Linked DNA regions of Homo sapiens: regions 1, 3, 4, 5, 6 and 7 are each linked to region 2. Evidence: fine-mapped QTL for protein levels in blood plasma. Region 2 holds a variant in brackets. A gene starts in each other region. All regions are shown on their reverse strands. Region 1 holds the start of HPSE (heparanase). Region 2 overlaps ZFPM2 (zinc finger protein, FOG family member 2). Region 3 holds the start of CRYBB1 (crystallin beta B1). Region 4 holds the start of CPXM1 (carboxypeptidase X, M14 family member 1). Region 5 holds the start of PDGFA (platelet derived growth factor subunit A). Region 6 holds the start of ENO2 (enolase 2). Region 7 holds the start of VEGFA (vascular endothelial growth factor A).

The links. PIP is the chance, under the fine-mapping model, that this variant and not a neighbour inherited with it causes the effect. Protein levels are from antibody-based Olink assays in UK Biobank. Linkage for the fine-mapping came from a reference panel and not from the study's own genotypes, which makes the PIPs less certain.
Region 1: it holds the start of HPSE, and the variant in region 2 is fine-mapped to the plasma level of the HPSE protein (UK Biobank, PIP above 0.99).
Region 3: CRYBB1 starts here. The variant in region 2 is fine-mapped to the plasma level of the CRYBB1 protein (UK Biobank, PIP above 0.99).
Region 4: CPXM1 starts here. The variant in region 2 is fine-mapped to the plasma level of the CPXM1 protein (UK Biobank, PIP above 0.99).
Region 5: PDGFA starts here. The variant in region 2 is fine-mapped to the plasma level of the PDGFA protein (UK Biobank, PIP above 0.99).
Region 6: it holds the start of ENO2, and the variant in region 2 is fine-mapped to the plasma level of the ENO2 protein (UK Biobank, PIP above 0.99).
Region 7: it holds the start of VEGFA, and the variant in region 2 is fine-mapped to the plasma level of the VEGFA protein (UK Biobank, PIP above 0.99).

The regions. Positions count from the first base shown.
Region 1 is chr4:83,332,502-83,336,564 of GRCh38, reverse strand. HPSE (heparanase) reads left to right here and starts at 1,717. Exons shown (of 12, transcript NM_001098540.3): 1 at 1,717-2,009. The coding sequence starts at 1,783.
Region 2 is chr8:105,566,811-105,570,873 of GRCh38, reverse strand. All of the region lies in intron 4 of ZFPM2 (zinc finger protein, FOG family member 2), which reads right to left. Among named protein-coding and RNA genes, the nearest start is that of ZFPM2, 250 kb to the right of the region's middle. The variant T/A (reference allele first, on the strand shown) is at 1,574.
Region 3 is chr22:26,616,448-26,620,510 of GRCh38, reverse strand. It overlaps CRYBB1 (crystallin beta B1), which reads left to right and starts at 2,484. Exons shown (of 6, transcript NM_001887.4): 1 at 2,484-2,534. It also overlaps a transcript of CRYBA4 not described here. RefSeq lists enhancers at 1,399-2,074, 2,753-3,430.
Region 4 is chr20:2,798,602-2,802,664 of GRCh38, reverse strand. It overlaps CPXM1 (carboxypeptidase X, M14 family member 1), which reads left to right and starts at 2,038. Exons shown (of 14, transcript NM_019609.5): 1 at 2,038-2,264; 2 at 3,772-3,939. The coding sequence starts at 2,093. RefSeq lists enhancers at 1,495-2,480, 2,481-3,468, 3,469-4,063.
Region 5 is chr7:517,988-522,050 of GRCh38, reverse strand. It overlaps PDGFA (platelet derived growth factor subunit A), which reads left to right and starts at 2,205. Exons shown (of 6, transcript NM_033023.5): 1 at 2,205-3,112. The coding sequence starts at 3,050. PDGFA-DT (PDGFA divergent transcript) reads right to left here and starts at 1,660. Exons shown (of 3, transcript NR_033963.1): 1 at 1-1,660. RefSeq lists silencers at 1-70, 1,736-2,075, 2,176-2,265, 2,546-2,685, 3,146-3,235 and enhancers at 1-647, 2,492-3,413.
Region 6 is chr12:6,912,075-6,916,137 of GRCh38, reverse strand. ENO2 (enolase 2) reads right to left here and starts at 1,558. Exons shown (of 12, transcript NM_001975.3): 1 at 1,479-1,558; 2 at 221-317. The coding sequence starts at 305. LRRC23 (leucine rich repeat containing 23) reads right to left here. Exons shown (of 8, transcript NM_001135217.2): 7 at 3,111-3,408; 8 at 1,909-2,247. The coding sequence ends at 3,135. RefSeq lists enhancers at 1-565, 566-1,207, 1,886-2,055, 2,086-2,155 and silencers at 1,564-1,754, 1,286-1,775.
Region 7 is chr6:43,768,054-43,772,116 of GRCh38, reverse strand. It overlaps VEGFA (vascular endothelial growth factor A), which reads right to left and starts at 1,906. Exons shown (of 8, transcript NM_003376.6): 1 at 805-1,906. The coding sequence starts at 1,410. RefSeq lists silencers at 1-456, 527-1,466, 1,844-2,093 and enhancers at 1-715, 716-1,481.

The sequences.
Region 1 (4,063 bases), not on the chromosome of region 2:
TTAAGGGTCACTGCAACCTCCACCTCCCAGGCTCAAATAAACCTCCCACCTCAGCCTCCCCAGTAGCTGGAACCACAGGCACGGGCCACCACGCCTGGCTAATTTTTTGTATTTTTTGTAGAGATGGGGTTTCATCATGTTGCCCAGGCTGTTCTTGAATTCCTCGGCTCAAGCAATCCTCCCACCTTGGCCTCCCAAAATGCTGGCATCACAGGCATGATGGCATCACTGGCATCACATACCATGCCTGGCCTGATTTATGCAAATTAGATATGCATTTCAAAATAATCTATTTTTATTTGTTGCCTTATTGGTGGTACAATCTCAAGTGGAAAAATCTAAGGGTTTTGGTGTTATTTGCTTACTCAACCAATATTTATTAGACTCTTACTAAGCACCAACATGATCACATGCCTGAGCTATGGCTAGCATAGCGTGTGAGACAAACTTAATCTCTGTTTTGGTGGAGCATATAATCTAGTAGATGAAGCCAATGTTGAGCAACATCACAATACTAACAAATTGAGGATGCTACGAGAGTGTCTAACAAATTGAGGATGCTACGAGAGTGTCTAACAAATTGAGGATGCTATGAGAGTGTGTCATGGAGAGCTGCCTGGAGATTGAGAGAAAGCTTCCTTGAGGGAAGTTACATTTCAGCTGAAACACACTGCCATCTGCTCGAGGTTTTGTAACTGCATTCACATCCCGATTCTGACACTTCACATCCCGATTCTGACACTTCACCCAGTTACTGTCTCAGAGCTTGGGTCCGCATGTGTAAAACAAGGACAGTATGCACTTGGCAGGGTTGTGAGAAGGGAAGAGAACACAAGTAAAGCACCTGTATCAGGCATACAGTAGGCACTAAGCGTGCGATGCTTGCTATGATTATACATCAGTGTAAGCATCAAGGAAAAGCTGAAGAAAAGTCTGACCAACAGCGAAAGATAAATGCGCAGAGGAGAAATTTGGCAAAGGCTCCAAATTCAGGGGCAGTCCGTACTCTACACTTTGTATGGGGGCTTCAGGTCCTGAGTTCCAGACATTGGAGCAACTAACCCTTTAAGATTGCTAAATATTGTCTTAATGAGAAGTTGATAAAGAATTTTGGGTGGTTGATCTCTTTCCAGCTGCAGTTTAGCGTATGCTGAGGCCAGATTTTTTCAAGCAAAAGTAAAATACCTGAGAAACTGCCTGGCCAGAGGACAATCAGATTTTGGCTGGCTCAAGTGACAAGCAAGTGTTTATAAGCTAGATGGGAGAGGAAGGGATGAATACTCCATTGGAGGTTTTACTCGAGGGTCAGAGGGATACCCGGCGCCATCAGAATGGGATCTGGGAGTCGGAAACGCTGGGTTCCCACGAGAGCGCGCAGAACACGTGCGTCAGGAAGCCTGGTCCGGGATGCCCAGCGCTGCTCCCCGGGCGCTCCTCCCCGGGCGCTCCTCCCCAGGCCTCCCGGGCGCTTGGATCCCGGCCATCTCCGCACCCTTCAAGTGGGTGTGGGTGATTTCGTAAGTGAACGTGACCGCCACCGAGGGGAAAGCGAGCAAGGAAGTAGGAGAGAGCCGGGCAGGCGGGGCGGGGTTGGATTGGGAGCAGTGGGAGGGATGCAGAAGAGGAGTGGGAGGGATGGAGGGCGCAGTGGGAGGGGTGAGGAGGCGTAACGGGGCGGAGGAAAGGAGAAAAGGGCGCTGGGGCTCGGCGGGAGGAAGTGCTAGAGCTCTCGACTCTCCGCTGCGCGGCAGCTGGCGGGGGGAGCAGCCAGGTGAGCCCAAGATGCTGCTGCGCTCGAAGCCTGCGCTGCCGCCGCCGCTGATGCTGCTGCTCCTGGGGCCGCTGGGTCCCCTCTCCCCTGGCGCCCTGCCCCGACCTGCGCAAGCACAGGACGTCGTGGACCTGGACTTCTTCACCCAGGAGCCGCTGCACCTGGTGAGCCCCTCGTTCCTGTCCGTCACCATTGACGCCAACCTGGCCACGGACCCGCGGTTCCTCATCCTCCTGGGGTAAGCGCCAGCCTCCTGGTCCTGTCCCCTTTCCTGTCCTCCTGACACCTATGTCTGCCCCGCCAGCCGCTCTCCTTCTTTTGCGCGGAAACAACTTCACACCGGAACCTCCCCGCCTGTCTCTCCCCACCCCACTTCCCGCCTCTCATTCTCCCTCTCCCTCCCTTACTCTCAGACCCCAAACTGCTTTTTGGGGGGTATCATTTAAAAAATAGATTTAGGGGTTACAAGTGCAGTTCTGTTCCATGGGTATATTGCATTGTGGTGGCATCTGGGCTCTTAGTGTAACTGTCACCCGAATGTTGTACATTGTATCTAATAGGTAATTTCTCATCCCTCATCCCTCTCCCACCCTCCCACCTTTTGGAGTCTCCAGTGTCTACTATTCCACTAAGTCCATGTGTACACATTGTTTAGCGCCCACTCTAAATGAGCCTTTTTGTTTCATTCATTCTGTAAGTGTTGAATAGGCACCACCTAAGGTCAGGTATAAGTGGAAATTTGAAAAAGAAACTGCCCACTTGCCCCAGTACTTCCCTAGCCAAGAGGAGGGAAACCAGGCAGGTGCACCTGAAGGCCTGTGAGTGCTTGATTTGCTGTGCAGTGTAGGACAAGTAAGATTGTGCATAGCCTTCTGTATTTAAGACTGTGTTAGGAAGATTTCTCTTTCTTTTCTTTTCTTTTTCTTTTTTCTTTTCTTTTTTTTTTTTTAGGCAGATGAAAAGGGCGTCACAGAACAGGAATAAAAATCTAAATATTCAATAAATGAGACCTAGGAGACTACTGCAGTGACTTACAAAGTCCTAATAAAAAGATGTCTCTCCAAAATGGGGCTGCAAAATGTGGTGCTGCCTTATCAGCTCTAAGTTTTTTCCTTACCTGAGAAAGAAGGAACCTGATGCAGGTTCAGGGCTCCTGCCCCATGAATGCAGGCTGACTCCAAGATGGGGAGCTACAGGGACAATCCCAGGTCTTCTAGGCCTCTTATTTAGGCCCTGGGAGCCTCCAGAGATGGCCACATCTTGACCAGCCCAGATAGAGGGAAAGATCACCATTATCTCACCTCTGTGTCAAATACCTAGATGCTGTCCTCCCTGAGCCCACACTATAGTTGCCAGCGCTAATTTAATGGGTAGTGTACTGGTTAAGAGATGGACAGACCATCCTGGCTTGACTCTCAGCTCTGGCAAAGATGAGTGACTTGGTTTTTCCATATCTCTTGGCCACACCAACCTTGATTTCTTCAGCTGTAGAATGGAATTTCTCAAGCTTGCCTCAAGGATTATTGCCCGAGGATTTGATGATATGGTAAGAGCTTCTCAGTGTTTGACCCATAGTAAGTGTTTGACGTTTCAAACGAATTGTTTCTTTCTAGGACATGGTGAGCATTTGGTAGCCATTCACCGGTTTTCTGTTTCTTTGGATCATAGTTAACCTCTCCTTTTCCTTCTGGCACTACAATTTTCTGGTGGGGAAGAATCCTTACTTTCTGCCCTTCCCCTTAAGGATAGGAAGCTGATACTAGGCAGCAACTAGTTGGGGGATAGGAAGATTGTTCCAGAGAAATGCTGAACCATAGGGCTCCAGATCACAGGACCCCAGTCTTAGCTTGCTGGGGTGTGGGGTGGGGGGGGGCGGTTACTGAACATGGGTATGAAGTAGATGTCCATTTACTGAAATGTGAGGACCTGAGGCCTCTTCTATTGCTGTAGCCAGCATATTCCCCAACCTCTCCCCAAGAAAGGACAGATGGGGGTTCCCCCCTGGAGTAACAGGTCCAAAAGAAAAAACATACAGTGGGACTTCCAGGATCTGGGCCTGATCACCCAGCAGTCAAGCTCCCCGCAATTGACTAACACCCCCCTAACACGTAGAAATTCCAATCTGCAATTTAGTGAGGATGATACCTTTATTCTTCTTAAATACATCTCTTCATTTCCCAGAGCACCCTTTTTTCCCCTCCTCTGCACCTTTTTGTTAAAGACTGGAGTATAATGAAATACCAAGAGAGCATAACATGTGATACATAAAACTTTTTTTCTGGTTTACAAAAC
Region 2 (4,063 bases):
CTAAGGGTAAATAGGTTTAGCCATATAAACCAAAGGCCAAAATGTATTAAAATTTCAGGCAGAGGAGAGTAAGTTAGGTCCATAAATAAAATTGTCTATGTATAGCAAGGAATTGTGTTTCCACCTTTCAAATCCAAGTCCAAATGTAAAGAACCTGGAAAGACTTCACCATCAGGAGAAAAAGTAAGTCAGGATGAGATTGAGGTTAACAGGCTAGCTATACACAAAAGGTATTATTTTGGAGGCAAGTAAAAATTATCAGGAAGGGCACAAATTCAGGTTTTCATTTCAATACCATTGTGCCATATGACAATGTATTTTCATCCACTGCCAACATCATAACTATATCTGCATTATAACACAGCAAATCCCTTCAGATTAATATGCAATTGACCTCTCTGGCTTCTACATATTTCAATTGTGAAATAATTCTTCGGTGTTTAATTTCTTCCTTTCTGACTCACATTCAATAGCAGGCCTTTGATTACTGAGGCCTCCACACAAACTTCTTTCTCCTCTTTCCCTGAGTAATCCCCCTCCATCAAAAAAAAAATAAATAAAAATAAAAATCAATAAAACAACAAAAACCCTACCCTAATTCTAGAAACCAAACCAACGCATCACTTTCCAAGGCTCTGCTGCATTACATTTCTTGCCTTCAAGTCTTCTTTGAGCAGCTTTTCTGTCCACTCAGTTTCCATTAATTCTCCACATAGCAGATAGAGTATAAGAGAAGCCAGGATCTTGCCCTCCCTAAGGGACAAATCTACAACCTCCATCAATAATGAATTTCACCAATGTTTCCCAAGAGGAACAGGGTACAATTAAAAAGGTTATAAGTCCTTGCACTACTAGAACCTAAGGGCGTCTGTGAATGAAACTGGCTTAAGCCCAATTAGAGGAATCAGTACATTTGTCTTCTCTTGGAACAATCTTGCTCTTACGGTTCCCATCAATTCAGTATAAATCTGACTGATCTTATCCAAGAAGTTAATAGAAAATTGCTCACAGTGGGCGACTGCCACCTCAGTTTCCAAGCAGAGACAGATGGAATTTCCCAGATGGTTTGTCACTGGAACGTGTGAGGCTGGATGAGACTTCACAGAAAGCATGGTAGAGCAGAACACCTTCTTGGCCTTCACCCATGTCATAGTGAGGGATCTAAAACTGAGTCTGTTGTAAACAAATCATAATTGCCTCACTAGGCGCAACACCTCATCCTCCTAGCTGCATCCAAGGGTTGCAAATCTTACACCGAAATTAGTCAACTTTTCTCAAGAAACCATCATGGGCATATCTCCTTATGAGATAAAAACTGAAGAAATAGACATAGTTATCTTGTCCTACTGAAGTTTCCTCTCAAACGAGACTAAAATAAAAGTGCAAGTCTATAAACAAATAAAACAGGTACAAGATAGCATTTCCTGTGGTAATTGCTCTGCTGAGTTAGGCAGATGAAGCAAGATCACAGACGAAACAGACATGGATGTAAAGCCTCAGGAAGGATGCAGGGTCTTGAATAAGGAGGGGTGTGCAGCTGTTCCTGATATGGAGAAAAGTGAAAGGAAAAAAT[T/A]AATGTGCTGATTCATTCAATGTTATTCATTGAGCTCTTAGTATAAGCTAGACATTGTTCTAAGTGGGAAGGATAGAAAGATAAAAAATAGATAATAAGCATATGGTCTGCAGGGGAGATAGACAAGCAAACAGGAGCTCACAGTTATGTGATCAGTGCTCTTATCCTAGTAAACCTAGAGCACCAGGGAAATACTCCAAGAGTGGTTATCTATTCCAGACAGGAGGCTTCAGAGAAGGTCTACCTTGGAAGTGACTTTGAGCAGAGTCTTTAAATAAGTATTGGACTTAGTGAGATGAAGAGAGATAGGTGGGGAGGGGGGAATAGGGGTTTCCAGGAGGATAAAACAGCATGACCAAATGTACGGATGTGGAAAAAAAATGGACATTCAGGGCACTGCATGTAGTTCAGAATGCCTAAAGTCTATAAGAGAGTGGAAAAGGGGTCAGAACTGGGGAGGTGAGCATCACCTGGGGAGGTGAGTAACAGGAAGGCCTTTTTTAGGCTTTACCAAAACCTTGGGGTATTCTCGTGCCCTTTAGAATGATTTTAAAGCACAGGAGTTAAGTGACTACTGTAGTTTTGCTTTCAGGACATACTGTGGTCTGAGTAAATAAAAAGATGACAAGAGAGAACAGAAGAATATTGTAATAATCAAGAGAGAAGCGGTGGGGCTTTCGACTAAAGCAGTGGTAGCAGGACAGAAAGAGGAGAACAATCATTACGAAAGCAGGAGTTATGATGCTTGGTTTCTGGACATGAAATGGAGAGTCTTGGAAGATGTTTGACTCTGAATAGAAGGAAAAAGAGATGGTAGTAGTTACAGGCAAAAGGAGAGAGGTATGGGTATGTGTAACTGTGTGTGAATAGCATTTGAGATGTGAGAAGGAGAGGTAGAAATGCAGAAAAGACACAGGATAATTGAGAGAATGGACTCCCTGCAGAGGTACGAAAGGAGAGGCAGAGGACTAGGATTAAAGGTGACTGAAAGCTGGAAGTCATGGAAAAGAGAGGCTGTCTGTGGAGACAGGAATAAACTCTCTTTGTGACTGTGTAGTTGGAGGAATTAAATGGGAAAGCTTGCAAAACAGTTGAAATGTGCTATTAGAGAAAGGGTAAAAAGCCAAGGTTAGAGATTTTTTTATTTAAATGTCATTTGTAAATTAGTAGCTGAAGCTTTGCAAGTGGATAAGCTCCCTGAGGCACTGGGAACAGAGGGAGAAGAGAAGAAAGGCCAGAAGTGTTTTGGGAAACACTCACAGTTAAATTAAAAAGAGCTAAGACCCAGAGAGATATGAGAAATAGGAAAGTATGGTAGTCCTGAGCCCAGATTAAAATGAATATTAAGAAGGAAGATATCATTCACAATGTCAACATCAATGAAATCTGAGGCTCAACAAAAAGTCATGCCTCAGCAAAATTATAAATTATGCCATTGAGATGGGAAAGATGGAGAATATGGGTGGAGTCAGTGAGAATGTTCCTGATAAGCAAATTCAATTCGATTAGATTTTTATTTTAAAGAGCAGTTATTGAATACCGATTATGTACCAGTAGTAGAGGTCCAAAATTGAATAATAAAGATTAAATAATTCTATGTCCTCTAGAATCTCAATAATAATTTGGATATTGCTTTTAAATTTATTTCATTATTACATCTTAGAGGCTGTCTTAGTATGGATTCCCCAGAGGCTTACCCTGAGACTGATTCAAATACAAGTAGTTTACTGGGAAGTTGATCCCAGAAAATTCCAGTAAGGTTGTGGCGAAGTAAGCAGGAAAGGGAAGAGGTCCACAAAATGTTCACTATCAAGGCAATCAGAGCTCAATTCCACTGCCAAACTCTAACAGACAATATAGAACACATCTTATATCCTAACCAAGAGGAAGGGAAGCGGAGGTGTTAGTCCACCAACTTTCTGTCCATCATTGGTTGAGGATAACCTTTGGGAATAGGAAATCTCCAGCACTTCCAGCTTTCCCAGCTTGCAAGGAGTTTGCTCTTAACGCTGGAAAAAAGTGCTCAGGTAGAAAAGTCACAGGTGTGCCCACTGAGCAGCCTTTGCCTATAGAGGTGAATGCTGGAGACATAGGTAGAGATATATTTGCTACAGGATATGTACAATATGAAGCTTGAAGACTAGCAATTATTAAGATAAAAGATGAATACTGGAAAAGATAAAACTGCAAAGGGATAAATGGAGGCAATTAATAATTCTAATTATAAGCAGGTAGATCAGGAACTTCTAATTTTTTCCTTAACCACATTTCTATAAAGATGACTATCTTAAAACTTTTAAGATGCAATTTGATACATGCATTATTTCATTATTAGGTCAACAAAATATCTATAGTGCCCTTTATATGTATATTTCATTTTTTTAAAAAAAATTCAGTATCACAAATACCCTGTGGGAAAATAATACATTTTATTCTGATTGAACAGAATAAAATGAGATTTCTCTGTCAAATTTCATTTGTTGAATTTAA
Region 3 (4,063 bases), not on the chromosome of region 2:
ACAATGCACCCTCTACAGCCAGACTGCCTGGGTTTGCATCCCACTGGTGCTGGCTGGGTAACTTTTAAGCATGTTACTTACGCACTCTGAGCCTCAGTTTACTTGTGTGTAAAATGGGTGTAACAAGGTAAGTTGGGATTAGTCTAAGAAACAGGGGGATTGTGAGGATAAATGTGAATAGCACATGAACAGCAGCTGGAATTGCTCCTGCAACATAAAAAATATTGTGGTATTTCCATCATCTTCATCATCACCATTGCTAATAAGAAAGATGATTATTATTAATTGTTGATCAAAAAGCAGGGGTGCATAGTTTTTAAGAGCCTGGGTTCATGAGTAAAGAAGATGTGAGTTCCAATTTTATCTTACATTTCCATTTTTATGAGAAAGTGGCTGAGAGAGAGGAAGGAAAGGGAGTTGCTTCAGTTTCCTTATCCGTAATTGGGGTTAATCCCAGAGACTTCATCCTTATACTGAGGAGTACAGGACAATGCAAAAAAAAAAAAAGAAAAGAAAAAAAGAAAAGAAAATAAATTGGCTCCATAAGACAGGGCAAAAAAGAAAAAGATATAATGAAGGATACAATAATAATAATAAATGCTCAGAGTGGAGCCACCAACATGGTGGGCCATCCCCCTTCTCTGCCCCCACCCTCTGGCAGACAGCCCATTCCTGGGGCTTTAGGGGGGGCACGGAACTGCCCCAGATGACCTGGCTTTGAAGCCTAGACTGGTGGGTGGGCCCTCACCACAGGCGTCTTGGCCCCAGTTCCAGTGGCTACCCCATCTTGCAGTTCCTGCCCACACCCCACCCACCAAGTCTTGGCCCAGGATGAAAGGCCAAGGAGAGGCTAGGAAGCGAGGGGGTGCTGGGTGGTGGAGGGACAGAGGCAAAGCTGGCTCCAGGCCAGGGAGAGTTCAAGACAGAGCTGGGCTCCACGGGGAGCCTAGAACCCCGAAAAAGAAGAGACAGGAGCCTATCCAGATGCCCCCGCAATATACCCTGCCTGGGACTGGGGAGCCGACTGCAGGTGACCTAGCTGAGCAGCTCCCCAGGCTCCTTCTGACCCCAGCTGTACTGTGAGTTCCCGCCATGTGACTATGTTGAAGTCATTTGTTCCACCTGGGCCTCGGTTTCTCCATTTGTGAAATGGGAGGATTGGGCCCTGTGATTTCTGGCGTCTGTTCCTCCGTCCTGAGGCTTGATCACCCCAACTTGACCTCTGTCTCTCCGTCTCTCGCTCCTTCACTGTCCATGTCCCCTGTGCCTCTCTGTGTCTCTGTCTCCACCTCTCTCTTTGTCTGTTACTTCTATCTGCCTCCTTACTTCTCTCTCCTTGCCTTGGTTTCCCTATCTCCTCCGTACCCTACCTTCTGTTCCGATCCATTGGAACCACCATTGAGTCACCAGTTATTGACTGAGAACCCATGATGTGCCAAGCTCTACCTAGCCAGGCCCAGCTAGGTGCTGGGGCCAGTGGTGAACAAGATGTGGTGGGCATCTGGGGCTTGCCAGGGCAGGAGGCTCTGGGACAGGCAGTCATATTTCTGGCCACCAGCACTGTCCTCCAGGTCAGATAACGTGGCCTGGGTAGAGGCGGGGAACTGGGGTGGCGAGAGGGATCACTGTCGATAGGTCAGGAAAGGATGGGGCCCAATGTGGGGAAAAGAAAAAGACCCAGGTCTCCGATATCCAACCCAGCTGAGCACAGTGCGACTCTCCCATTCCCACCCCAACCTACAAAGAGGAAGTCAGGCCAGGGGGCCTCAGGCCAAGGTCAAGGCTGGACAGCAGGAGAAGAAAGCACACAGGCCCAGAGCTGGCTGGCCTGGGCTGGCTCTGACCTCTCTGTGCCTTCACTTTCCTCTTCTGTGAAATGGGCATAATGAAAGTACCAAATAAGGCAGATTGTCCCGGGGACTGACCGAGATAACACGGGTTCGGCACACAGTAAGCACTCCGTAAAAAAGGCTGTCCATATCAAACCCACATCTGCCTTTACAAAACGCTTCTGTGCTCATTGTCACCTTCTTTTCTATATGGCATCCAACAGGGACACGTGCCCACCTTATAATTGCAGACACAGAGGCCCCCCTAGGGGTAGAGACCTACCAAAAGCCACACAGCGCGCAGTGGCTGAGTCAGGATTCAAACTCTGGTCTCCTGCCTCCCAGGGTCTCCCCTTTTCCCTGCCCCATGTTGGCAGCCAGCAGGGACCCTTTTGGGGGCCCATCCCTGGCTGGGGTTGTTGAGAAAGGAGTCAGGGTAGGGTTGGAAGGTGAAGCTGCTGTGGCCAGGGTTTCTGCTGTGTGTGCTGGTCTCACAAAGGAAAGTGCTGCTGTCTGCAGTGATCCAGGCGAGGTCAGGGCCCCAGTCCCCCACTCCCTGCCCAGGCCTGCTGAGCCAGCTTCCCCTTTGTGCCACAGACTATAGGGCCTGATGTCTGCCAGACTATAAAATGGGGGGTCGGACTCTAGTCACCCATAGCACCTGCCCGCCTGCCTGTCCTCCAGCAGGAAGTAGCAAGTCCCCAGGTAAGAGGGAACCCACAGCCCAGCTGAGAGCTGAAGGGGAGGGGAAGAGAAAAGGGAGACAGAGAGAGGGAGGCAGAGATAGCAGTGCCATGAGAGTCAGAGAGCAGGGCCATGGAGATAAAGACGGAAGTGGAGAGAGGAAGAAAGGGAGGGAGAGGGAGAGGGGAGAGAGTGAGAAAAGACAGAAATAGAGAGAGAAGTAAATATAATTAAAAAGGACAGATAGAGAGATAAGCAAAGATACAATGAGGGAGAGATAGTGGGGGAGAGAGGAACAGAGAGGGAGAGAAACAGACAGGCAGATAGGCAGAAAGAGGGAGAGAAGTAAGAAACAGATAGAGAGGCAAAGACAGGGAAGAGAGGAGGAACAGAGGGAGAGGGTGAAGCAGGGAGAGAGAGAGAATGAGAATATCTCCAGGAAGGCATGAGTCCAGCTGCCAGCCCTGGGGGAGTGTTTAAAGCCACAGATGTGGTCCAGATGTCTGGCCTCACCCCTGGTGAACAGGGGGCACCCCAGAATATGCACAGCCTTCCTGGAGGAGGCTGGGGGAGGGATGTGCTTATCCCAACTAGCTCCGCCTTACAGAATGTGTTCGGGAATCAGCTTGACCAGAGGGTCTTAATCTGTGCTAGCAGGGGGTCCTCAAATCCCTTAACATTGTCTCCAAAGTTAAAGAGAGCATTATTTTTGTCCGGGGACAAAGTTGAGGTATTCATCAAACATTCAAAGGAGTCCACGACCCCAAAGCAACAAGGAACCACTGGAATTGACCAAAGCCCTCTCCACCCAAAGCCTACCCAGCCCCAGTCCTCATTTTCAGAACCCTCCACATGCAGTAAATACATCCTCTTGGGTCCTCCCATAAGCCTCAGTCCCCGGCCTGTATTTGCACCCATACACCAACCCCTCAGAGGAAGCAGACGGGGAAAGGAGCTGGGAGCATGCATTCATTCATTCTCTGAACAAATGTTAATTGGGCATCTCCTATGTGCCAGGTGCAGAGCAAGTGTTAGGGATGGACGGTGAATAAATCAGATTAAGCAAATGGCAGAATACTTTAAAAGCCCAGTTGCTGGCTCCATTTCCTTGAGTTGAAATCAGAGCCCTACCACTTAGTAGCTGTTTGGGCCTGAGCTGGGCCCCTTCCTTCTCCAGCCCCCTGCTGCTCAGAGGGGATCATGATAGCAGCTACTCCATCGGGTGAGGTTCATGGTCAGATGGGTTAATTAATGTATGTCACAGTGCCTGGCACACCTTAAGTACTCCCAAATGGGACTTCTTGTTATTAGTCTAGGGAGGCAAATTGGAGTTGCACAAGCAAATCAGTGTGATAAGCAGTGTGGAAAATTGCAGGGGGCTAAGGAAGGACCTAGCGGGGTAATGGAGGGTGGAACAGCTAGTGGAGGGAACCGCATGGTCAAAAGCCTGGAGGAAGGATATATGTGGGATGAGTGGCCCCCAGACGGGAAGGTCTTGGCTGGGAAGTAGGGATGAAAGAAAAACTTCCAGGCTTAACCGTTTCAGAAGG
Region 4 (4,063 bases), not on the chromosome of region 2:
GACTAGGGAATGGAGCAGATGGAGAGGGTGTAGGTGAAGAGTGAGCAGGTTGAGGAGGATGTAATAGGCAAAAGGAAGGATCATCTAAGACATCAGAACCGGGAAGGGAGGACGTTCCTTGGAAGCATACATGACAATTTGTATGTAATTTTGGGTTTGGATTTGGGGATAAAGCAAAAAAGACCTGAACATATGGGACTTCTGAATCCTTTCCAAGGTTCCGGCAAAAAATCAGTTAAGTTGTAAAGTAGCATTGCAATCCCAAGTTTCATTAATTGGCCAAATTGATTGATTAGGGAGCTTGTATTGAACCCAAGCAATATTAGAAAAAAGGATATGCTTTTTAAACTCTTATTTATTTTTTATTTGTATTTTTTGAGACAGAGTCTTGCTGTGTCGCCCAGGCTGGAGTGCTGTGGCGCCATCTTGGCCCACTGCAACCTCCGCCCCCGGGGTACAAGTGATTCTCCTGCCTCAGCCTCCCTAGTAGCTGGGATTATATGTGCCCGCCACATATAATTAGCCCCCTGGCTGATTTTTTTTTTTTTTTTGTATTTTTAGTAGAGACAGGGTTTCGCCATGTTGGCCAGGCTGATCTCGAACTCCTGACCTCAGGTGATCCACTCGCCTCGGCCTCCCAAAGTGCTAGGATTACAGGTGTGAGTCACTGTGCCCGGCCAAGTTTTGCATTTTTAGTAGACTCCCGGTCTTTAACTCCGGACCTCAGGTGATCTGCCTGCCTTGGCCTCCCAAAGTGCTGGGGTTACAGGCATAAGCCATTGTGCTCAGCCTTATATGCTTATTTTTAAGAGTTTGTGGGTCAAAATGAGACCAATGGGACCATTTTTAAGGAGGCAATCCAAGGGCGAGTTGGATGGAACTGAATTAATTGAACCGAAGTTGGGTTTAGACAAGGAACTACAAGATCCCTGAGGCATCCCTGTGTAGAATTGAGATCCACCGCTTCCAGGACAAGGCTTATGGAGTGTTAAAATGAAAGTGCCCTGCCACTCTGACAGGCAATAGCTCTTTTGTCTTGGCCTTGGGGTAATACCGGGGGATGGCGCTTGGCCAGAAACTGTCAGTTGCCAACGAGAACTCAAGCTGGTTCACTGGCAGTCCGAAAACAGAAAAGAGCCCTGGCCAGTCCCTCACCCCTAAGGGCAAGGACAGCCAGGTATCCCTTCTCTAGGGCTTCAGGATCCCACAGAAGAGCTGCCTCCACCGGGACCGGCAGTTCCCCAAAGAGTAAAGAACCAGACCGTGGAAGGAAGCAGAGAGAAAAAGGAAGAGGGAAATCCCAGTGAAGTCCCCGTATGGGCCACCAAGATGCCAGGCGAGGTGTCAGAGCTCCGGAACCGGGAAGTGGTTGGCTCCCGGGTGGTAAAAGAACTTATCAACAACCGTGTAGGTCTGAAAAGGAAAGTTTTATTAGACGGAAAGGACGAGGCAGCAGAGCGCAGTAGGCGCTTCAGCAAGAGAGGACTGAGCTCCCTGCGGGGAACTGCAGGGTAATTTGGACCACATTAGTCACTTAGGTCATGGTAAATGGTTACATTTGTCGATATTTTGGTGCCTTGATGTCAGCAAAGTTTGCACAATGGGTCTTAACGTGCACTCATTCCGGAAACGTACAGAAATTCTAGTTACTTATAAATTCTTGGGACGGAAGCTTGGTACCAGATGTGGCTTTAGACAATAGGGAAGTGTCATTCTGAATTGCTCAGATAAGGGGCTTTGCCTCCTGTTGGTCGACTTGATGGCCACCAGGTGATCTCTGGTCTCTTCAGTGTGGCTTTGCAGACTATAAAGGCGCAGCGCGCCAACGAGGCGGGTTGGCCCCAGACGGCGGAGAGGAAGGGCAGAGTCGGCGGTCCTGAGACTTGGGGCGGCCCCTTGGAGGTCAGCCCCGCTCGCTCCTCCCGGCCCTCTCCTCCTCTCCGAGGTCCGAGGCGGGCAGCGGGCTGTGGGCGGGCAGGAGGCTGCGGAGGGGCGGGGGGCAGGAAGGGGCGGGGGGCTCGGCGCACTCGGCAGGAAGAGACCGACCCGCCACCCGCCGTAGCCCGCGCGCCCCTGGCACTCAATCCCCGCCATGTGGGGGCTCCTGCTCGCCCTGGCCGCCTTCGCGCCGGCCGTCGGCCCGGCTCTGGGGGCGCCCAGGAACTCGGTGCTGGGCCTCGCGCAGCCCGGGACCACCAAGGTCCCAGGCTCGACCCCGGCCCTGCATAGCAGCCCGGCACAGCCGCCGGCGGAGACAGCTAACGGTGAGTTCCCCGACCGACGGTCCGCTCCCCCGCAAGCCGACTGCCCGGCTCTCCTGCCCCGTGGGGCGATCCCTCCCTAACACGCGGGCACACGCACACCCACGCACACTCACAGTCATGCACACTCACCCCGCACGCACACTCGCACTCACGCGCACACACGCGCGCGCACTCACACACATTCACACACGCGCACACTTGCACTCACACGCGCGCGCATTCACACGCATGCACACACACGCACACTCACACGCGCGTGCGCGCACACACAGTGCACGCGCGCGCACACTCACACTCACAGTGCACACACACATATACACACTCACACTCCCTCAACTCCCTGCTGGGAGCAATGGCTGCTGACTCGGCAGCCCCAGTTCCCTGCCAGACCTAGTCAGCAGTCCCAGGACAGGCGCCAGTGGGATGCTGCCTCTTCCAAGCCCCAAACCTTCCCTTTTCACCAAAGACAAAACAGGCCAGAACTGGCAGGAGGGGAGACAGAGGGGCAGAAGCTCTCAAGGTGCAGAGCAAGACTGCGTAGGAGAGAGTTTGAAGGCGAGGGCTGGAGAGAAAGAACAAAAGGAAAGAAGGGAGAGCCCCTCGCTGAGGCTGCCGGGAGGATGGGGCAGAGCGGGAGAGGAAGGCAGCCCGACCTCCCAGCTTTCCAGATGTGGAATAGGAGAGGAGGAGCGCAAGCGGAGGGCACTCAGGGGCTTCTAGAGGAGGCAAGTGGAGGAGGGTCTTGAAGGGTGATGTCCCCGAGTCAGGGGAGTCTGGAGAGAGAGAGAGAGAGAGGGCTGCCAAGAAGGAAGCGGCGGGCAAAGGCACAGGGGCACCAGATGCGGAAATGGGCAGCCTGTTCTGGAGGCAGCTGTGGAGCTTCGATGGGTACCCCCAGCACCTGCCTGGGCAGAGCCTTGTGCTGAAGGGCCGGCGGGCAGGCCCAGCCCTGAAAGCCTCGACACCCAGGCAGACATGGATTCCAGGACAGGCCATCTGAGCCCAGAGAGCAGACACAACAATGGAAGCGGCACAGGGGTTTTGGGGCATGATGCTGAGTCTGGAGCTAAGAAAGCCTCCTTGGAAAGGCATCTGGGCTGAGATGCAAAGGAAGAATGGGAATTAGGTGAAAAAATCAGAGGCGAGGGGTAGCATTACAGGGGAGGGGATAGCTAGTGCAGAGGCCCGGAGGTAAAGTGCCAGACTCAGCTCTTTGGAGCAACCGAACAGTTTCTAGAGGCTGGGTGCAGCTCTCCATTGGATTAGAGGTTCACAGGGGAGGCTGGCCAAGCATGTAGTTACATCAGGGAGGAGAAGGAGGAGCCAAGGAAGTGACTGGAGAGGCAGGTTGGGGTCAGATTGCAGGCCTTTGATGTCCTGTGAAGGCTGTTAGATCCTGGTGGTGTGGCCTGCTGTGGGCTCACATGTCTTCTTGGGCTGGCAGACCTTTCCATCCGGGGTTTCACCATTCTTCCTTTCCCCCATGCTGTGCCTCTCGGACCCCAAGGGACCTCAGAACAGCATGTCCGGATTCGAGTCATCAAGAAGAAAAAGGTCATTATGAAGAAGCGGAAGAAGCTAACTCTAACTCGCCCCACCCCACTGGTGACTGCCGGGCCCCTTGTGACCCCCACTCCAGCAGGGACCCTCGACCCCGCTGAGAAACAAGAAACAGGTACTTCCTCTCCAGGGGCCCAGCCCAGACTTGCAGCCCCTGGGGCACTTTACCAGCACAGCTCTTGGCCTCATGGGCACCGGCACGCCCCTTGCTTGCCTAGCGCAGGAGCAACCTTAGGCTC
Region 5 (4,063 bases), not on the chromosome of region 2:
GTGCGTCGTGCCCCGAGTCTCCCCAGAAGGCGGCTGTCGCGCGGCTGCACAAGTTTTCGCCTCCCTCGCGCGGCCGCTGTTGTTGTGGTCGCCATGGCGACGGGTCGCGGTTTTATTTTTAATAGCGGCCGGCGATTAGAGAGATGCCTGCACCGCTTTCGCCTAAGCTCTGCGTCCCCCGCGGGTGAAGCACCCACGCCCCGCCCCAGCCCCCGCCTCGCTCCAGCGCCCCTTGCACGTCCCCAGGTGGCCCTAAACTCTAGCTGGGCGCACCCGTAGCTCCAGGCCGGGCAGGGGAGCCGAGGGAAGCAGCCATCTAGGCCCTCAGAGGCGGCGAGGACCCCCAGGATCCCTCAAGCTGGGAGGGACGGGTACCCCATCCCCAATACAACGCGACCTTCCTCCTTGCCTTCCACACCGTCTTACCGAGTCCTCTAACCCCACAGAGGTGTCCTCGGGCCCCCTCTGCGCGCGAGCAGTCCGAGGCCCAGGAAGACAGGATGCGCGCCACTCCGGGATAACTGGCCGAAGAATGAGGCCGGGGTCCGGCCTGCGTCCTGGCCCTGCGAGTCCGGCTCTTTCCAGAAGCCATGCAGTGGGTGTCCCCTCCCAAGCCGCAAGTTCCCCCTGGAGGGACAAGGCCTGGCTTTAAGGGGCTCCTCCACGTTTCCAAGGCTCCCCTGGTTCTGTCCCGGTCCCGCTTGGTCCTGACCACCCAGAGGGCATGCTTGACCGCGGGGGTCGTGGTGTGGGGCTGCGGCCAACGGAAGGGAGAGACGTGGGGAGGGGGCCTGCAGGTGTGTGGAAGGGCGCGTGTAGACGCGACCCACTGGGAGCGGAGGGAGAGGCGTCGCTCCCCAAATATTTGGGGGAAGGGGAGAGCCCCCGAAGCGCTCTCCGGATTCGGCCTTTGAAATGCTAGAGCTGGCCTAGCTGGGGATGAAAGACCGCCCGCGGGGCTGCGCCTTAACGGCCTTTGTCTGGAGGGAGGGCGACCGCGACGGGGGCAGGGGTTTAATCGACAGGGTTGGGGGTGACGGCTGGGCCGGGCGGGATTCTCCGCTGCTCACCCAAGGAAGCGTCTCCTGGGCTCCAGGGGCCTAGGCCGTCTAGCCTCGGGGTCTGCACAGCACGCCACCCCGCTGGACCCGGTACCAGGACGCGTAGACCCCCTGGCAGGGCACTGACGAGCACCTGGACCTGTAGTCAGGGTCCAATCCCTCCTGGTCTAGGGAGGCGAAATCCATCCAGCCCAGGCGCACCCGCCCTTTCTCGGCGTGGGAGCCGTCTAGCCACGCTCAGACCTCGGCCTCCGCGCGCGTTCCTCCCCCGCATCGCGCTCTGAGCTGCGCCTCGGCCGGAGGTGGCGCTCTGTGCGCCCCACGGATCCCGACGCGGGAGGCTCAGAACCCGGGGGACCCTCACCGGTGGCTCCTTTCCCTTCCATCCCCTCGACTTCCCGGCTCAGGGCGCGGCCCTGCCTTCGGCGCGGGAGTGGGGGACTGGGGGGCGCGGGGTCCCAGGGTGGGGACGAGGCGGGCTGCAGGCCCTTTCCCCGACTGGAGCTCGCTCCCAAGTGGAAATGTGGGTGGAGGGTCCTCATTCAGATGCCCCAGGCCTCGGATCCTGGGCGGGGGCGCGTGGCAGCCGCCAGGTGAGTGCCCCAAACCCGCCCCCCTCCTTCCCCAAAGACTGACTCCCCCTCCTTTTATGGAGAGAGGAAGGCTGGGGCCCTGGATCCGAACCGTGGAGAGCGGCCGGAGCGCCGGGGCGGGGGCGGGGACCGGCTCTCTGGCCCTTTTTGGCGCAGCAGCTCTGGGCGCTGCCCGCTGCCGCCGCTGGGGCCCGAGAGAGGCGAGCCGGCGACGGCGGCGCTTCTGCGGCGGCCTCCTCCCTCCCCACCCGGTGCCGCAGGATTGCAGCTGGCACTGGAGGGTGGGCAAGCTCGAGGGAGGGGCGCGGAGCCCCGGCGCGGAGCCGGGCGCGGGGCTTTGATGGATTTAGCTGCTTGCGCGAGCGCGTGTGTGCTCCCTGCCGCGGCGGCGGCGCCCGGGCCCTGCCGGGTCCGCACGAACCCCGAGCGCTTCCGAGGTGCGGGTCCCAGGCCCGGAATCCGGGGGAGGCGGGGGGGGGGGGCGGGGGCGGGGGCGGGGGAGGGGCGCGGCGGCGGCGCTATAACCCTCTCCCCGCCGCCGGCCGGCTCCACACGCGCGCCCTGCGGAGCCCGCCCAACTCCGGCGAGCCGGGCCTGCGCCTACTCCTCCTCCTCCTCTCCCGGCGGCGGCTGCGGCGGAGGCGCCGACTCGGCCTTGCGCCCGCCCTCAGGCCCGCGCGGGCGGCGCAGCGAGGCCCCGGGCGGCGGGTGGTGGCTGCCAGGCGGCTCGGCCGCGGGCGCTGCCCGGCCCCGGCGAGCGGAGGGCGGAGCGCGGCGCCGGAGCCGAGGGCGCGCCGCGGAGGGGGTGCTGGGCCGCGCTGTGCCCGGCCGGGCGGCGGCTGCAAGAGGAGGCCGGAGGCGAGCGCGGGGCCGGCGGTGGGCGCGCAGGGCGGCTCGCAGCTCGCAGCCGGGGCCGGGCCAGGCGTCCAGGCAGGTGATCGGTGTGGCGGCGGCGGCGGCGGCGGCCCCAGACTCCCTCCGGAGTTCTTCTTGGGGCTGATGTCCGCAAATATGCAGAATTACCGGCCGGGTCGCTCCTGAAGCCAGCGCGGGGAGCGAGCGCGGCGGCGGCCAGCACCGGGAACGCACCGAGGAAGAAGCCCAGCCCCCGCCCTCCGCCCCTTCCGTCCCCACCCCCTACCCGGCGGCCCAGGAGGCTCCCCGCGCTGCGGGCGCGCACTCCCTGTTTCTCCTCCTCCTGGCTGGCGCTGCCTGCCTCTCCGCACTCACTGCTCGCGCCGGGCGCGCTCCGCCAGCTCCGTGCTCCCCGCGCCACCCTCCTCCGGGCCGCGCTCCCTAAGGGATGGTACTGAATTTCGCCGCCACAGGAGACCGGCTGGAGCGCCCGCCCCGCGGCCTCGCCTCTCCTCCGAGCAGCCAGCGCCTCGGGACGCGATGAGGACCTTGGCTTGCCTGCTGCTCCTCGGCTGCGGATACCTCGCCCATGTTCTGGCCGAGGTTGGTGCCGCCCCCGCGCCCCGTCCCTGCGCCGGCTCCTCCGGCGCACACCCCCCGCCGGCTGGGGCGCCACGGGCTCTGCAGAGAGCGTTTTGGTTCCTGCCAGGGTGGTCGATGTTTAGATTTTCCCAACTGGGTTCTATTTTCTGCCATGCCTAAGTGTGTGTGGGGAGTTTCCAGCGTGTTGCGTCGGTCGCTCTGCCTCGGGGGGACCGGGGAGCAGCGAGGTGGACGAGTGGGCAGAAACTTCGGGGGGCGCAGTGTCCTCTCCGGGGAAGGGGAGCTGGGGCGCAGCGGGCGCTGCAGCAGCGGGGTGCGGGGAGCGGGGAAGGGGGTGTGTGTGAGCCGGCGGAGCCTGGGGAGGAGAGAAGGGCGGCGGATAAATAGGTAGGGGCGGCTGCTGCGGAAGCCCCTGGCCGGGCAGGGTGGGCAGCGCCAAGCTGCAGCCCTCGGTTCCCAGTCCCCAAGCCCGGCGGGGCTCAGGGCCGGCGCAGTCCCGCCCGCCCGGGCCTGCTTACAGGTGGCTGAGCGAGGCGAGCTGGGGCTGGGCCAGGCGTCCGCACCCTCCCACCGCGGCGTCCCCGCCCCCCCATCCCCATCCCCATCCCCATCCCCGGGAGCTTTGCTGTGATGAATGACTTTCCACAGCCCCCGTCGTGGGAACTTAGTGCTTCAGGCTCCCCAGCGACCCCCGACTCTCCTTAAAAATCGGGGAGGGGAGTGGGGGAGGCCAGAGGTGAGGGTGGTCTCCGCAGGGCACGGAGAGCTGCGCGAGGTGGAAGTTTAACCCTCGCTTTCCCTGGAGGCTTCTTCTCCCGGCCGCCGGCTGGATTTGGGCGTCTTAGTCGGCGCTAGGGCCGCGGCTGGGCCGGAGCCCGGGGTGGGGCGAGTGTGTGAGTGAGATGTGTGTGCGCGTGTGTGTGTCTGCGCGCGCGTGCGTGTGTTTGTGAG
Region 6 (4,063 bases), not on the chromosome of region 2:
ACACGGAGGCAGGACATGCCTCACACGCTAAACTCGAACACAGACCCACCTACCCTGGCTCCCCGGACAAGGAGGATCCAACCGCCACAACCCAGGCTTGTGAGCCTGGCCCAGCACCCCATACCCCTGGGTATCAAAAAAGGCCTCCGAACCCCTGGCCGAACCCAGCCTGGCCGTGGAAAAGCTAGGGCTGTAGGAAGGCCCATGCCACACCCATTACCTTTGGCAGTATAGAGATCCACCTCCACTGTGGGGTTCCCGCGGGAGTCCAGGATCTCCCGGGCCCAGATCTTCTCTATGGACATGATGGCTGGGATCTCCTCGGGTGGAAGGGAAGGAAGGAGAAAGATAAGAGGCTTAGAGGGGTGGAGCCTGAGATCAATGGGCGGGGCGGGAGGCTGGGAGGGATGGGAAAGAGGTTACTGCAGTGGGTGGGGGGTGGGTAGGGAGGCGCTGGCTGCAGTCTAGGGCTGTAGAAGGGATTCCCCCTCCCCCCTGGGAAGAGGAGAAGGTCAATGCAGTGAGGAAGGGGAGGTCACTGCAGTGGGGGGCGGGGTAAGATCAAATGATGAGATGGGAGAACACTGCAGTGAGGAGGGGAGGGGCACGACAGTGGTTCCCGCGCCTCTTTGCAGCTTGGCCAGCCGGTGGGGTTCCCCCAGATCTCCTCAGAGCGGAATGGCTGCCAGGCTTGCATTTCTCCTGGGAGCCAAGAAGAGGATGGGCTGCCTGGGCCTCTCTTCCAGAGCCCCCATACCTCCCCAACTTAACACCCCAGCTGCCTGAACACTGCCCCTTCCCCAAGGTCCCACTCTCTCCCAAACGTGTATCCCTCCTCTTCCCGCGAAAGGCGCATGCAATACAGGTGTCGGGGAAGAGGGTCCTGAGAAAGGCCCTGCAGTCCCTGGGGGTTGCAGCGGGAAGTGAAGAGGATAAGAGCCGGTGGGGAGTGGAGGCGAGCTGGGCCTGTCCTCCCCTCTGCGCCTCGACAGATCCCCACTTCTTCCATCTCTCCCCCGTGCAGCAGAGGGGAGGAAGCGCGAACGGAGAGGGGCGCCGTGGGGAAGAGCAGGAGAGAGGGGAGTCCAAGGGAAGTCTGGGGGAGGTGAGGAACGGTGAGAGAAGACATTTCCCCAAATGCAAACCAAAAGGGACGCTCTAGGATAAAAATGCACCGCCCGGAGAGGCTCCCAACTTAGAAACAAATAGAACCGTAGATGAGGGCGAGCACCGGGAGAGAGGCAGGCAAGGGTGGAGAGGCGCAGTTAGAGATAGGCGCGCAGAGGGCCAGAAAGCGAAGGCAGCGGGCGGGGAAGGCCAGGGAGGGAAGGCGCCCTGGGCGCGGGCGGCGGAGCAGGTGCGCAGCTGCACCGGGCCAGAGATGCGGAGAGGTGCGCAGCGGCACCGGGTAAAGGAGGCAGGGGCGCCGCGGCGAAGGGAGGGGGCCACAGGGGCTCTGGGCCTGGCGGGGGCTTCACCTCGGGACTGCAGACTCAGACGGTGGTAGTGGCGGTGGCGGTGGCGGTGGCGACGGCGGCGCTGAGAGAGCGGGAGTGGCAGTGGCGGCGGCGGCTGCGGCTCCCGGGCGGCGGGCGGAGGAGGCGCCTATAGGGCCGCGCGGGCGCATGTGACCCGGAGCCCCCGATGAGTCAGGAGCTGCCGGCGGAGGCGCACGTACGAGCGCGGGTGGGGGACCGACGAGGGTGGAGTGGGGAAGGGAGGAGGATGGGGGAAGGGTGGGGGCACCCACGACCTGGCCCCAGCGCACACAAGCGCTCATACCCACGGCCCGACCCACTCGACAGTAACAGGCAGAGCCGCACCCCTGTAGCCCGGGTACGAAGGCCCACACTGCCAGTGAAGCCCAAGACAGCCTCAATGTCTCACAAACCCGGTCAGACACAGGAGCATCACTCTGTTTCTTTATTGGAAATCCGAACACCCCAGCCGCCTTCGCAAGTCTCTCCAACCACTCCTACCAGCACCCCGCGGCCCACGCGGTCTTGGCTCTCACCCACGCCTGCCCGAGGGCGGCCCCCGGCCTAGGCTCCAGGCAACGCTCAGGCCTAGGCACCCCATTCTGCACCCCACACTGCCCAGAGGACCGGCACAGAGCAGATCCTGGGCCTCAGGTTGTGATGAATTTCCAGCTTTGGGGCAAAAACAGGCATCCTCTGTTCTCTGTCATACATGTGGTGGCTGCCCCTGGGAGTCTGATCAGGTCTGAAGGCCAGCGTCTTTGATCTCCTGGAGGTAGAAGACAGAAGTAAATAGGGACCAGGCGCTGTGGCTCACCCCTGTAATCCCAGCACTTTGGAAGGCGGAGGCGGGCAGATCACGAGGTCAGGAGATCCAGACCATCCTGGCTAACGTGGTGAAACCCCGTTTCTACTAAAAATACAAAAATTAGCCAGGCGCGGTTGCATGCGCCTGTAGTCCCAGCTACTCGGGAGGCTGAGGCAGGAGAATTGCTTGAACCCAGGAGGTGGAAGTTGCAGTGAGCTGAGATTGTGCCACTGCACTCCAGCCTGGAGACTAAGCAAGACTACCTCGCAAAAAAAAAAAAAAAAAAAAAAAAAAAACAAACAGAGGTAAATAAAGCCTCTCCCCTATCTAAAGTGCCTGGCGGCCACCCTCATCTCTTCAGTCTCTTTTTGCCTCACTCTGCCCTCTTTTCTTCCCCCATCTCTGTGTCCTGTTTTTAGCTTCAGATTTTTTGTGCTGGATCTTCCTCTCCTGCTTCTCTCCTAGGTCCAGCTGCATACACCACCAACTTTCCCCTGCAGCCCCTACCATGCACCCACACCTGTCCTTTCCTAGCCGACTTCACTCTGTGTCAGGTATGGCTGCCCCACCCCCCACCAACTCCTCTGCCTGCCACCCCAATTCTTTTCACTTACTCTTCTGGCCTCCTAAGTCTTTCTCAGCTGGTCCCAGGCCCCTTGGGTCCCTTTTCCTCTCCCTGACTCCTAACCCTCCTCTCTTTAAGGGTCCTGCTTGTCTGATGCTTTCCTCTCCCACCTCCTTCTGCAGCAGCTTCCCCTCTTGCCTCTTCCCCTACCTGCCCAGCCCTTGGCCTCCTCCCACTGCCTCCCTGCAGGCTTCCTTACTATCTTTAGAGGCTAGAACTGCTGCTAGATCAATGACTGTTCGGGTTCCAGGTCACGCTGGGGCTCAGGCTCCTGCTCCTTTTCTTCCTTCAGCCTCTGTCGAATCACATCAGCCTCAGCCCGTTCCTCCTCCTCATAGAATTCCTTGTCCAGGCGTTCAAGGTATGGCATCTGCACCAGGGCCTCCTGGCGGTAGCTGGTTTCGTCCGTGCATGGGTTATCAAGCAGCACCAACGCTCGCAGCTTGGGCAGGTCTCGAAGCTTGGCCAGCTCCCCCAGGTTGGCCACCATGTTGCCCCTGCCAGTGTGGTCAGGAGGGGTTCATGCAGGAATAATGGGCTTTGGTTGCCAGTTGCTAGGAATGGGGCCTCTGGGGGACTCTCGGGGTTCCAGTGTCCCTAGAAACACTGTGAGGACTGGCCTGCCAAGCCTTGCCAGATTTACTGCAGAGGTGCTGTGTGACCCCGCTCTGGTCCTGCTTCTGCCCTTCAAGGAATCCCTAAGTGCCATATTCTACTCTGTAATACATTCATGTGTTCTTTTGGTGCAGCAAAGCTAGGCCACAACCCTGTCTTGTAGCTGGGGAGGAGAGGGCAAATTTTCCTCACAGGGAGAGACATTTTCTGTGATCACACCTAAATGGAGGGTAGAAGGTAGGACCCAGCCTGGGCAACATAGCGAGACCCCATCTGTACAAAAGCTAAAAATAAAAAAATTAGCTGGGCGTGATGGCATACACCTGTAGTCCTTGCTACTTAGCTGAGGAGGAGGGATTGCTTGACCCCAGGAGTTTGAGATTACAGTGAGCCGAGATCGAGCCACTGCACTCCACCCTGTAGGACCTAGGTCAGTGGACAAGGAACTGGGATCTAAGCTGGAGTTTAGGGTGGTGGATGCTCGGTTCGTGCTCTCCACAAAGAGAACCTAAGGCTATGGATGGGTTGGAGCCTCCC
Region 7 (4,063 bases), not on the chromosome of region 2:
CCGGGCTGGGGCTACCTCGAGAGGTCACCTTCCCGCGGAGGGCTGGCGGGGGGAGGGGTGCCGCTCGCCACTCTGGGCTCCCCATTCGGGCAGCCGAGGCTCCGGGAACACGCGGCCGGCCAGGCCCGGGCTGATGTAATCGGCTCCGCGCCGCGCGCACCCGGCCGGGCGGGGGAGGGCGGGCACCGAGCGGGACGCGAGCGGGGACGGGCGGGGTTGGCGCGGCGCAGGTGGCCCAGCAGGGAGGGGGGGTCCCCGCAGCAATCCACCCCAAAACTTTTCCCAAACTCGCGGCGAGGGCTGAAGAGACCGAGTGGCAGTGACAGCAAGCCCCCTCTCCCTCCTGCGCCCTGCCCCCTCCACGCTCTCTGCCCTCCCGCGGTCCAAGGTCCGAGCACCCCCTGCCCACTGGTCTCTGGCTCCCGCCCCCGCTGCTCAGACTTCCAGTTCGTCCGGGACCAGCGGCCGGGAGCAAACTTCAGCCGGCAGCGGCAACGCAAGCCCAGCCCCCTCGGCCTCCTCCTCCGGCTCCCGCCCTCGGCTGGTCGGCCCAGATCGTACGTGCGGTGACTCCGGTGGGTGGGCAGGGCCCGCGTGGGCGGTGAGCCTCTCTCCGGGTACCCTCCCACCTAGCGCGCGCGCCCCCTCCCCCTGCACCTAAGACGACAGAGGGGGACGCCGCACGCCTGGTGCCCATGGACCCGCGTGGGGCACGGAGCCCCCACGCGCGCGCTCGCACGCACGTCCCCAGCCGGGAGAGGCGCTCGCAGCGGCCCGCGGCGCCAGCAGGGCACGACCGCTTACCTTGGCATGGTGGAGGTAGAGCAGCAAGGCAAGGCTCCAATGCACCCAAGACAGCAGAAAGTTCATGGTTTCGGAGGCCCGACCGGGGCCGGCGCGGCTCGCGCTCCCTCTCCGGCTCGGGCTGTGGGGCGGCCCGCTCTCCTCGGCGCCTCGGCGAGCTACTCTTCCTCCCCGGCCCGAGGCCCGGGCCAGGGCCTGGGGAGCGCGCGCGGCTGGAGCACTGTCTGCGCACACCGCCGCCTCACCCGTCCATGAGCCCGGCTTCCGAGCGCCGAGTCGCCACTGCGGCCCCCTCTCCTCTTCCTTCTCTTCTTCCTCCTCCCCCTCCTCCGGCTGCGGCTCCTCCCGGCCCGAGCTAGCACTTCTCGCGGCTCCGCTCGGCTCGGCTTCCCCCGCGCGGACCACGGCTCCTCCGAAGCGAGAACAGCCCAGAAGTTGGACGAAAAGTTTCAGTGCGACGCCGCGAGCCCCGACCCCCTCCACCCCGCCTCCGGGCGCGGGCTCCGGCCCCTGCCCGCGGCTCGCCGCCGCGTCCACTGTCCGCCGCCGGCCGGGGAGGAGGTGGTAGCTGGGGCTGGGGGCGGTGTCTGTCTGTCTGTCCGTCAGCGCGACTGGTCAGCTGCGGGATCCCAAGGGGGAGGGCTCACGCCGCGCTCCGGCGGTCACCCCCAAAAGCAGGTCACTCACTTTGCCCCTGTCGCTTTCGCTGCTCGCACGCCCGCGCGCTCTCTCTGACCCCGTCTCTCTCTTCCTCGACTTCTCTCTGGAGCTCTTGCTACCTCTTTCCTCTTTCTGCTGGTTTCCAAAATCCACAGTGATTTGGGGAAGTAGAGCAATCTCCCCAAGCCGTCGGCCCGATTCAAGTGGGGAATGGCAAGCAAAAATAAATTAAAACGAGAAACAATACAGTTTTAAAAAAAAATGTTTAAGAAAAAAGAAGAGGGATAAAACCCGGATCAATGAATATCAAATTCCAGCACCGAGCGCCCTGGCCGGTGAGTCCGCTGACCGGTCCACCTAACCGCTGCGCCTCCCGACAGAGCGCTGGTGCTAGCCCCCAGCGCCACGACCTCCGAGCTACCCGGCTGCCCCAAGCCTCCGCGATCCTCCCCGCTACCAGCCGACTTTTAAAAAAAAAAGGGGGGGGCGCATGGCTCCGCCCCGCCGGGACCCCGCCCCCGGCCCGCCCCGGGGGGCGGGGACAGGCGAGCCTCAGCCCTTCCACACGCGGCTCGGGCCCGGGCTCTGCGGACGCTCAGTGAAGCCTGGCCCGCAGCCCGCCGCAATGAAGGGGAAGCTCGACCCCCACCAAGGTTCACAGCCTGAAAATTACCCATCCGCCCCCGGAAACTCTGTCCAGAGACACGCGCCCGCGGGGCATTGGCGAGGAGGGAGCAGGAAAGTGAGGTTACGTGCGGACAGGGCCTGAGAGCCGTTCCCTCTTTGCTAGGAATATTGAAGGGGGCAGGGGAAGGCGGAGAGCCGGACAGGGACGGGTGGGGAGAGGGACACACAGATCTATTGGAATCCTGGAGTGACCCCTGGCCTTCTCCCCGCTCCAACGCCCTCAACCCCACACGCACACACTCACTCACCCACACAGACACACACGTCCTCACTCTCGAAGACGCTGCTCGCTCCATTCACCCAGCTTCCCTGTGGTGGCCGAGCGCCCCCTAGTGACTGCCGTCTGCACACCCCGGCTCTGGCTAAAGAGGGAATGGGCTTTGGAAAGGGGGTGGGGGGAGTTTGCTCCTGGACCCCCTATTTCTGACCTCCCAAACAGCTACATATTTGGGACTGGAGTTGCTTCATGTACAGAGAGCCCAGGGCTGGGCACAGGGGCCACAGTGTGTCCCTCTGACAATGTGCCATCTGGAGCCCTCATCTGGCCTGCAGACATCAAAGTGAGCGGCAGCCAACAGGCTGGAGTGACTGGGGTCCTTTGGGAAGTGTCCAGGGATGCTTCCCAGGGGAGAAGAATTTGGCACCAAGTTTGTGGAGCTGAGAACGGGAAGCTGTGTGGTTCCGGGGTTAGTCAGTGACTGGGAGGGAAGAGGACCTGTTGGAGCCCACGTATGCACTGTGGAGTCTGGCAAAACCCAAAGGGGGAGGCAGCTGGGCAGACAGAGGCCCTTGTTCCTGCTGCCCCCCCAACCCCAGATGTTGCCAGGGAACTGAGGCCAGGGGGCTGGTGGGGGCGGGTGGAGGCCAGGGCCTGCGTGATGATTCAAACCTACCCGCCAGCACTAAGGAACGTCTGTAGGCCAGCTGCCCAGAGCTCCCACCAGGCCAGGGGCCAAGGCTTCTATCAGCCCAAGCCCAGACTCATAGCTCATCTTCTGAATAGAAATGGGGGTTTCGTCTCAGCTCCCCCATTCCCTCAGGATCCCTTGGCTACTTCTCCAGGCTCACAGCTTCTCCCCTATCCTTCCCCCAGTCCCCTCCCTTACCTCCAAGCCCCCTTTTCCTCCAACTCTCCACATCTTCCCTAAGTGCTCCCAAAGGCCCCATCCCATTCTTGCATATAGGAAGCAGCTTGGAAAAATTCCTAGCTGGTTTCTGACCTGGCTATTTCCAGGCTGCCCCAGGGAACAAAGTTGGGGCTCTGAGGCCTGTGGGAAGAGTGGGACCAGTCAGTCTGATTATCCACCCAGATCTTGCCAGGGTCTGGCCTACAGCTGGCATAGCCTCTGTGGAGGCATGGACTGAGAATGGGAATGCAGCAATTTCCCTCAATTTAACCAAAACGCTCCAGGGAGCTTACCTAGTCAGCCCCATCCTCAGCACATGTTGCTGTGGTTTGGTGGAGGTGCTAGGTTACCTCCCCAGTACCCCCAGTTCCATCGGTATGGTGTCCTAAGGCCCTTATGAGGAAAAGGGCTGGCTCCCACCCACCCCAACCCTCCCTTTCCATCATTCGTGCACTAGTCCTGTCTCCACCACTTGGCAGGCTCCCCAGCAGCAGGGACAAGGTCTTTGTACAGTTAGTAAATGTTTATTTCCTGGCTCAGGGCCCCCTCCCAGGCAGGCCTCCTCACCTGGGCTCCATGCTCTAGGCTGATGAACGGGATATGGAAGGGAAGCCACTAACTTTCCTCCTTGTGCGCCTCTAGCACCCCAGGAGCACAAGCTGTAGACATCTTGGGGCAGGATGGAGGCTCTGAGCCCTAAGGGCTCATTCTGGCCCCCTCCCTTGCATCCCTTCTCAACTCGGCCTTCTTCAGCCCCTAAAAGAGCCAACAGACCTGAAAGAGCA